Regions from separate parts of the Homo sapiens genome. Here region 2 is reported to be linked to region 1. Evidence: microRNA targets listed by miRTarBase, many of them from high-throughput screens and not tested one by one. Region 1 holds a microRNA gene; the other region holds the end of a gene's coding sequence.
Evidence for each region. The annotated mature microRNA hsa-miR-744-5p reads UGCGGGGCUAGGGCUAACAGCA and lies in region 1 at 1,127-1,148, opposite strand. An mRNA with a match to its seed (bases 2 to 7 or 8) in the 3' UTR can be bound and repressed. Matches are read on the target gene's strand: a 7mer-m8 pairs with bases 2 to 8, a 7mer-A1 pairs with bases 2 to 7 and ends in A, and an 8mer does both.

Region 2: the mRNA of FRZB is a reported target of hsa-miR-744-5p. The part of its 3' UTR that is shown has no 7-base or 8-base seed match.

What each region holds. Positions count from the first base shown.
Region 1 is chr17:12,078,990-12,083,056 of GRCh38, reverse strand. It overlaps MIR744 (microRNA 744), which reads right to left and starts at 1,158; the gene lies at 1,061-1,158. It overlaps MAP2K4 (mitogen-activated protein kinase kinase 4), which reads right to left. Exons shown (of 11, transcript NM_003010.4): 3 at 1,527-1,701.
Region 2 is chr2:182,831,270-182,835,336 of GRCh38, forward strand. FRZB (frizzled related protein) reads right to left here. Exons shown (of 6, transcript NM_001463.4): 6 at 2,006-3,696. The coding sequence ends at 3,580. Among named protein-coding and RNA genes, the nearest start is that of FRZB, 33 kb to the right of the region's middle.

The DNA.
Region 1 (4,067 bases):
TACAACTTTAACTATATAGGAAACCTTTCCCTTAAGATCCAGCCAACTAAAACTGGATGTCACACACAGGTAGCACAAAGGGACAACACAACATTCATCCAGGAGTCTAAATAAAATGACTCTTTCCACTTACACTGCAGTGGCACAAAATAGGAATACAGAAATCATTTCACATTCCAATAAAACATTTTATTTTAACACATAATGCAGAGTTCTTCACCTGTGCATCTTTAGAGGTCTACGGTTTGTATACAAAATGTTGTGTATATACACCTGCCTATGAAAAGTCTATAGTTCTCACCACATTTTAAAAATACAGCCAAAAACAATGTTAGGAACCCATAGAGAGAATCATAAAAATTTTCCCTACCACTAATTTAACATTACTTTCATATGACCCAGCAAAAAGAAATGCTCAACAGTGAAGGATACTAAAATAGTTACAGTAAGGTTTGGCTCACAACAGACTTCTACACAGAAAGCATTTTATTTTAATTTAAATTCATTCTCAAATGTCAAGAAAAAACTAAGGACTCTTATCAACCACTCTGACAAACTCTCAAAATAGGACACTAATAGGAAGATGATTAGCTTGGACTATATGCAAATCCATTCTGAATTCTTGTAAACTGAAACATTTTTGTTCCCATAGGAATTTTAAGCTCAGAGAGGGTATGGCCACAGCTAGCTTTTTTTCCTTTGTTTTTGCAAGTTGTTCCCCCTGTTGCTGATTTTCCTGAAATATCTTACATACAGCAAAGATTTGTTAAACATCTAAACAAACAAATGAATAAATTACAATTACATGAAACTAGGAGTCAGATGGAAACCACCAGTTCTTTACAGGTACCAGCATAAGCTTGCCAGGTATTGTCTATGGATCAAATCTCTGTTTCTGGCCATTTTTTTTTTTTAATGAACATATTAAGTGGCACGACACAATAAGGACAAAATGTGACAACATTATCACAAGGTATGCATTTCAGTACAACTTTAAAACCAGGGAACAGGGCAGTACTGAGTAGAGATGAAATAAACAAACAGAAGCCGAGCCGGTCAGGACCGAGTAAGGTTGAGGTTAGTGGCAACAGCATGTGCGTGGTTTCCAGGAAACCTTCAGTAAGACTGCTGTTAGCCCTAGCCCCGCACCTTGCCCAACCCAGTGTGCTGCGTCTTCTTCCAGCTCCCGCCTGGCTCAGTGCAGCACTGCCCTGCTCCCAGGGGTGCAGCCGCCCAGCCTGAACTCACCTTGGCAGTAGAAGGGCCTGAAGTTTAAAACATGTTAATGCATCATGCCAAAAATGCAATCAACATGCACACTTCATACACTCATGTTTCCAAAGAGATAGAAAATGTGCCACCAATAAGAAACCTCTACACAGAACACCCTCAAAGGAGTTGGAGAAACAATTTTTTAAACACCCACATTTACCACAAAAGTAGGAACACAACAACAGTGGTATTACTGCACCATGAAATTTCACCTAATGGATTAAAGTACCAAAAATAATCATGGCATCACCTACTTTAACTGCCATTATTTGCCCACTTGGTTTGTGGACCATTTTGTTGACAGAACCATAAGCTCCTCGTCCAATTTCTCCAAGGTCTTTCAAGTCCTCTGCAGTGAAATCCCAGTGTTGTTCAGGGGAGATCTTCAGTTTTCCTGATGACTCAATGCTGTGTGTTCTCAGTCTCTCTCTGTTAAAATATTGGGAAGCAATTTTTCCACATTTTAAATAGGTTTTAACTTTTTTCTTTTAGTACTGATTAATGTGTGGGAAAAATGTTTTCTAAATTACTAAAATAGTCTGACCTCCAGGTTTTTGAAGTTTTTCATTTGTGTCATCCTGGTTTTTTACACACTGGATTAAGAATGATCTAGATTTAGGTAGTCAATAGACACAGCTTCAACGGGATTCATAAAAACAAATTGCCAAGAAGATTTTTAAAAATTCCCATTTATTGATTAAACTAATTCTGCAGATCAGTTTTCATTTCTAAATATAAGATCTTATTCAAACTTGGATGATGGTTTATCCAAACAGCATTATCAAGTGAGAATCCCAAGAGCTGCAAACCTTATTGCGAAAAAGTTCTTACCCTATCTTACCCAACATTAGTTATTCCAGTGCCTCAATCTTCAGTTAGTACAACTATTCCCAAGGTTTGCTGTACCTTACAATCACCTGGGGGAGATTTTAAAAATCTCAATGCCCAGGTATCGTCCCATAGCAATTACATCTGAATTATCCAGGGACAGGAGTCAGAAAACAGTATTTTTAAAGACCCCCAGATGATTCCAGTAATGTTTGGGAACTAGTGCCTTAGTATACTGTCCTGTTCTTGTTAATACCATCCTGAGGTGGGAGAACAGTTAACTGAATAGCTAGCTGGCTCTAAGAGGAAAATTGCCATGTGCTATTCAAAATTGAAATTTTCAGCCCTCGTTCGATAAAGCAATGGGATAAAAAATGAGTGGCTCGTAGACAAAAGAGCTCACTCATTACATATTTCCATTAAATAAAAAATCATCTCCAAAATCTCAACCTGGAGATCAAAGTATTAATAACTTCTAACCATGCTTTGTAAAAAAGTAAATCCAATGAAAAATGTAAAATCAATCTGTTTCTCTCTCTTGCTCTCTCTCACACACACACCAAACCCCAATGTGTAGGAACAAACTATCAACCATACACACAATGAAAGAATTCATTAAATATCAACTACATTTTTCAGTTTCATACTAAATGATCAGGATCTCTTTTAAACTCTGATCCTATGATGCAAACAAGCAAAGTTTATGTGCTTGGTCATTATTTTTCTTCTTCCAAAATTTAGGAAAGTTTTCTCCAATTAGTAGAATGGTTTTCTGTAGCAACCTTTAAGGTTCCCAAAAAACTTAGAACTTTAAAATCTACCCCCACTCTGAGAATAATCGTATGTACTAATATTAAGGTTCAAAGTTACACTTCAAAGATTCATACACTTGGTCTAAATAACAATTTACTAAATCAGTGTTCCAAATAACAGACTTTCAAATCATACTAAGTGATAAGCTTTCATTCATACAAGTGCTTTTCAGTTCAAAGTCCTTTCACCCATATTATTTGATACTCTAGCATCCAGAATCACAAGAAGCCCGGAAATCAGTGGCATAAGTGACCATTTAGGTGAAGATGAAGCTGGAACTGATCTTTTAAGATGGAAATCAGGTCTAGGCAAAAATAGGAAACTCTTCTTGGTAATCTTTTTCATGAAGTAGACAGATTAAGCCTGAAAAAAGTTCTAACATGAAGAAGTTCCATGTATAATGATTATTGTTCTATAATCTTTGGCAAGTAAATACTATCTCAATGGCAAAATCACTGGTGAAATATACAGCACCAATCTACCACTGAGGGAAGCTGAAAAAAAGTTAATTAAAATTACTTGTAAATCAGAAGCAAAATTTTTTACAGTGTTCGCTAATTGAAGGGCTGTGGCAGACAGGCTCCAGGAAGTCCTCATGATCCCCACCTTCTTAGTGTTCGTATTTTTGTGTAGGCATATTTCTTTGGGTGTGAGTGGGACCTGTGACTTACCTCTAACCAAGAGAATATGGTAAAGATGATATAATATGACTCTCATGACTACATTGCTATATAATACTTATGCTAGCATTCTTGAGAACTGAAATGAAAGATATTTCATTACTATATAGAAATTACAGAATGAAAACAGTTACAATATTATGTCTTATTTTAAAGATCAAATTTTAGTATTATGGAATATCTCTACTAATAGTTTAGCTCACTGTAGTTTCTTTTTAAAACTGAATAAGTTGAAAGCGAAGTGATACAGGGTACCTACTTGGGCTAATATCCAAAAACTGAATAAGGTGTCAGATGCACAATTCTGTAAATATACTAAATATACTAAAAGCAAATGAACTATACACTTTAAATGTGTAACTGCAGAATATGTGAATTACATCTCAGCAAAGCTGCTAAAAGAGGAGAATGTGATTCCTACCCAGAGTTCCAAGTTTCTCATTTAGAAAGAAAAAGTGCTGTAAAAACCACAGA
Region 2 (4,067 bases), not on the chromosome of region 1:
TTTGCCTTCTTAATGTGTAACACATGTGGAAAGACAGTTTGTCTCACCCCATCCCTGAATGCTGGGTGCAACATATGGCACTGAATCAGATTACATTGTATGTGACACAGTAAAATACATATCCATGAAAAGAGAATCCATGTTTGCTGCTATTTAAGTATTTGCTACTTTATTCAGCATGCATCTGACTTTAATTTGGCTAAGAAAATTAAAATCCTAAAGTTGAATAAAATTTTTTAAAGAAATATAAATTTTATCAATCTCAAGGTTACTGACAAGGATGCATGTATATTAAATTTTTAGTGGCTTTAAAAGTTACTATCTGCAAGAAAACCCTATAGAGAGGCATTAACGAGGTGTCTTTGTACTATGGCAACTAGAGTAGAAATGGTTTTGCAGTCTCCTGAGAAACGTGACCATCATGATAAATCACGCCATCCTCCCAAAAGAGGTCTGCACAGTTTATTAATGAAGATATTGTAGCTATCAAACTGAAAAACCAAATGTACTTTATTCATGGGCTTTATACCATTAGAAATGTTTAAACAGCTGACAGAAGCCTCATATAGGTGAGCAAAATCAAACATTGCCACTATAGATGGTAGTGGTAAAACAGTAGGTTGTAAAATGGCACCGAATGGAAGGTGGTTTAAAAAAAAAAAAAACTGCTGAATCTAAGAATCTGGCCGTGTTTTGTTTATATTAAGCATAAAGTGTGTCAAATTCCTACACAGAAACTGATCATACCCCCTTTACCCAACCCCCACCCCCCAAAAAAAACTGCAGAAGCTGGAAACATCTGCAGCTTTTATACATCAAAAGAGTTCCTTACTTAACATTGCTTACTGTGCATTGAGAGAGTTGAGGTTTGTGGATTTGAGATAACGGTTCCTTTAAACCTCTCCTGTAGTCAATTCTTGTCCTTCTTTACAGAGTTAACGTGAGAAAGCCTGAGGAAAACAGGCTGAGGCACCAGCACTACTTTCCACCCCTCTGTCCTCAGGCTCAAGTTGAGGCTTACATACCAGGAAGAGAGATTCTCAGGGGCAGTCCATCCACGGTGGCGCTTCATTACTCCCCAGTGACACCCAACTCACCTTTTAAGGGTAGGACATCAGCACCTCAAAAGAGATGTCCTTGCCATCTGAGAATATAGCAACAATGGGCAGATGGCAAGCCCTTTGGAAGTGGTCTTTTGGAAGCTCAAAAGACTATGCAGTCCTATAGGCAAAGGTGGGAATGTTTTCTTCTGGGGCTGGGGAAATTGTTGGCTTTGGAGAGTCAATCAGAAGGCAGGAATGTTCCCTTACTCTGTCACCTTTAAATATAGGGAGATAAATCTCCAAGTAAAGGGTTTATTTGGGAATATAAGAATTGGAATTGTAATTCTGGGCACACAAACCAGTGTAGCCTCTAGTTGTGTTCAAAGAACAAAGAGAAAGGCTGGGGTTTTATTGGGGAAGAGAGGAAGGTGATCTAAATGGTTTTGAATGAAAGTTCACTGGAGCCAGGCGCGTCTTGTAGGATCTAGCAAGTTCTGATTGGTGAGTGGCAGCAGCTAGGTAACTTTATCTTAAGGTTAGAGTTAGGTCTTCGTGATTTTTCTGTTGAACTGCAAAAATGGTTCCTGGAACAGGGACCTGGGTGCCTTTCCCCATGGCCTCCCGACTCCATTTTAGTTGGGTATGATATGAGTGACTCCAATTTGTAGAATGAACTTTCACACTTTTGTTGTTGTTACAGAGACAGGGTCATGCTCTATCGCCTACGCTGGAGTACAGTGGCCGCAATCATAGCTTACTGCAGCTTCAACCTCATGGGCTCTAGCCGTCTTCCTTCCTCAGCCTCCCAAGTAGTGGGGATTACAGGTGCACTCACCACACCCAGCTCACACTTTTAAAATAGAACATTTAGATAGATGATTATTTACCATTTTAGGAAACTTTTGTTCAGGAATGAATTTCATCCTTGCTTGATTATCCTTGTAGAAGGAAACATAGCACGATTTTTGCTTCATAAGCATTTTATTTTCAGCACGCCACAGCTTAGAAATTTGGTTCTACTAATAGCACACATGTAAATGGCAGAGAATGAAACTTTCAAGTAATTGGCACAGGCTCTAAGGAACTCTGCCAGAGGAAGGAAGTACAGATGCTCCGCCATTTACGATGGGGTTACATCTGGATAAACCCATTCGAAACTGAAAATATCGTAAGTTGAAATGCATTGGGTTACATCCTGATAAACCCATTGTAAGTCAACAAATTGTTAAATTGAAGCATTGTAAATTGAATCATTGTAAGCTAGGGACCATCTATAAAAGCATCATTTGTTCACCACAGCCCCTGGGATCTCACCACAGCTTGGGTAATGAGAAATGTGCAATTGGTTCAAAAGTCGAAATAACCTCTCTCCTGACAACCATAATTCATTTTACTAGACATTTTTCGCTGAGCATTAAGCAGCACAAATCCAAATGATAAAGTGCAGGCCAGTTTGCAGGCCTGTATTTTAATCCACCTTGGGTGTGAGTGCAAGGACACACATGTACACAAATACAGACACACACACAACAGAAAAAACAAAAACAAAAAAACCTGCATATTTTATCACTCTGTAATCTACAGCATTTTTATGGAGCCATGTACTTTTAAAAACTAACCCTGGTGCACGTGCATACATAATCTTTTCCTGGTCAATACGGCAATTCTGATTTATTTTAAAAGAAGAGAAAAAAAAAGACTTTCACCAATGGGTTTATTTAAAAGGAAGCAAATTAAACAAAACTATGGTGATAACAGCAGATGTCTAGTTATAATTCATTTCTCTAATGCTGATTAATATATTCATGAACAAATCAAATGTATTGCCAAAAGAAGAATGCTACCATTAACACCCCAGCGGCTACTGGTTTCAGTTGTGCTTCTCAATCAGGCAAAATGTTCTTTCTTAAGCTCCTATTTATTTTACTTCCTGACAGTCTCAAAAATAATTCATCTTGGGTGTTGTTTCCTCATAAACACTTCCTGGTGCTTGATTGCTTTGCCTATGTGACATTTGACTTCAAACTGCCATTTTACCTTTATAAACATTTGGAACTTTCTAAGCATGAGGAGAATGCCCAAAAGGCATACAAAAATAAGGCTGTAATTAGATCGGCAGAGTATGTTTTAAGGCATATCTAGCTTTCTGTGAATACCAGAAACCTCTCTTTTCATCCAATATTGCATTCCCAATTGGGGTGCAGAAAGTAAATTAACATCTGGAGACTCCAGCAAAGAGGCTCTGGTAACAGCATGTTTAATTTATTATTATTGCAAAAGAACAGTTTTTCTCATGATTAGTGAAATAGAAAACTCACAATATACTTAAGAGTCTGCCCCCAAACCATTACAAAGGGGTTGAGAGAAGAGAGAAGCAGAAACCAAAAGAGAAACAGAAGTAATAATCAGTTATCACATGATTTTTATAGTAAACAATAGAATATGATGTGCAATAGTGCAATTTTCCTTTGCTAGTCCAGCAATGCAAGTAAGTCTTAATAGGAAGTCCACTGTGTTACTTTTTGTATTTCGGGATTTAGTTGCGTGCTTGCCGGGGGTTCGAGTTCCTGCCAGACTTCTGACTCTGAGTGGAATCACTATTGCTAGAATCACTTTTACTGAGTCCAAGATGACGAAGCTTCATATCCCAGCGCTGTGAAATTTAAAATAGAAAATAGTCACAAGCACATATCACCAGGGTCATTATTTCCATGATTCTAACAACTGGGTCAGACTGCAAGTTCAGATCTCTGAAGCATTTTGCTACTTTTCCAAAAGTATCAATCTATTTCCCAGGGTAACAAGAAAACTGATGCAATATGAACATTATTCTCTGACTTTAACAAGCGCAACATCTATAATGTATTTAGTAATGCTTTCTTATCAAACCTTAAACTTAAAATGTCCATGTCTATAAATGATGACAGAAATATCTCCCTATATCTCTGGGTATTTCCTGAGGTAACATACAGGAGGCTAGTGCTTCACAGATACTCAACAAATGGAAGATTTACACACAGAATT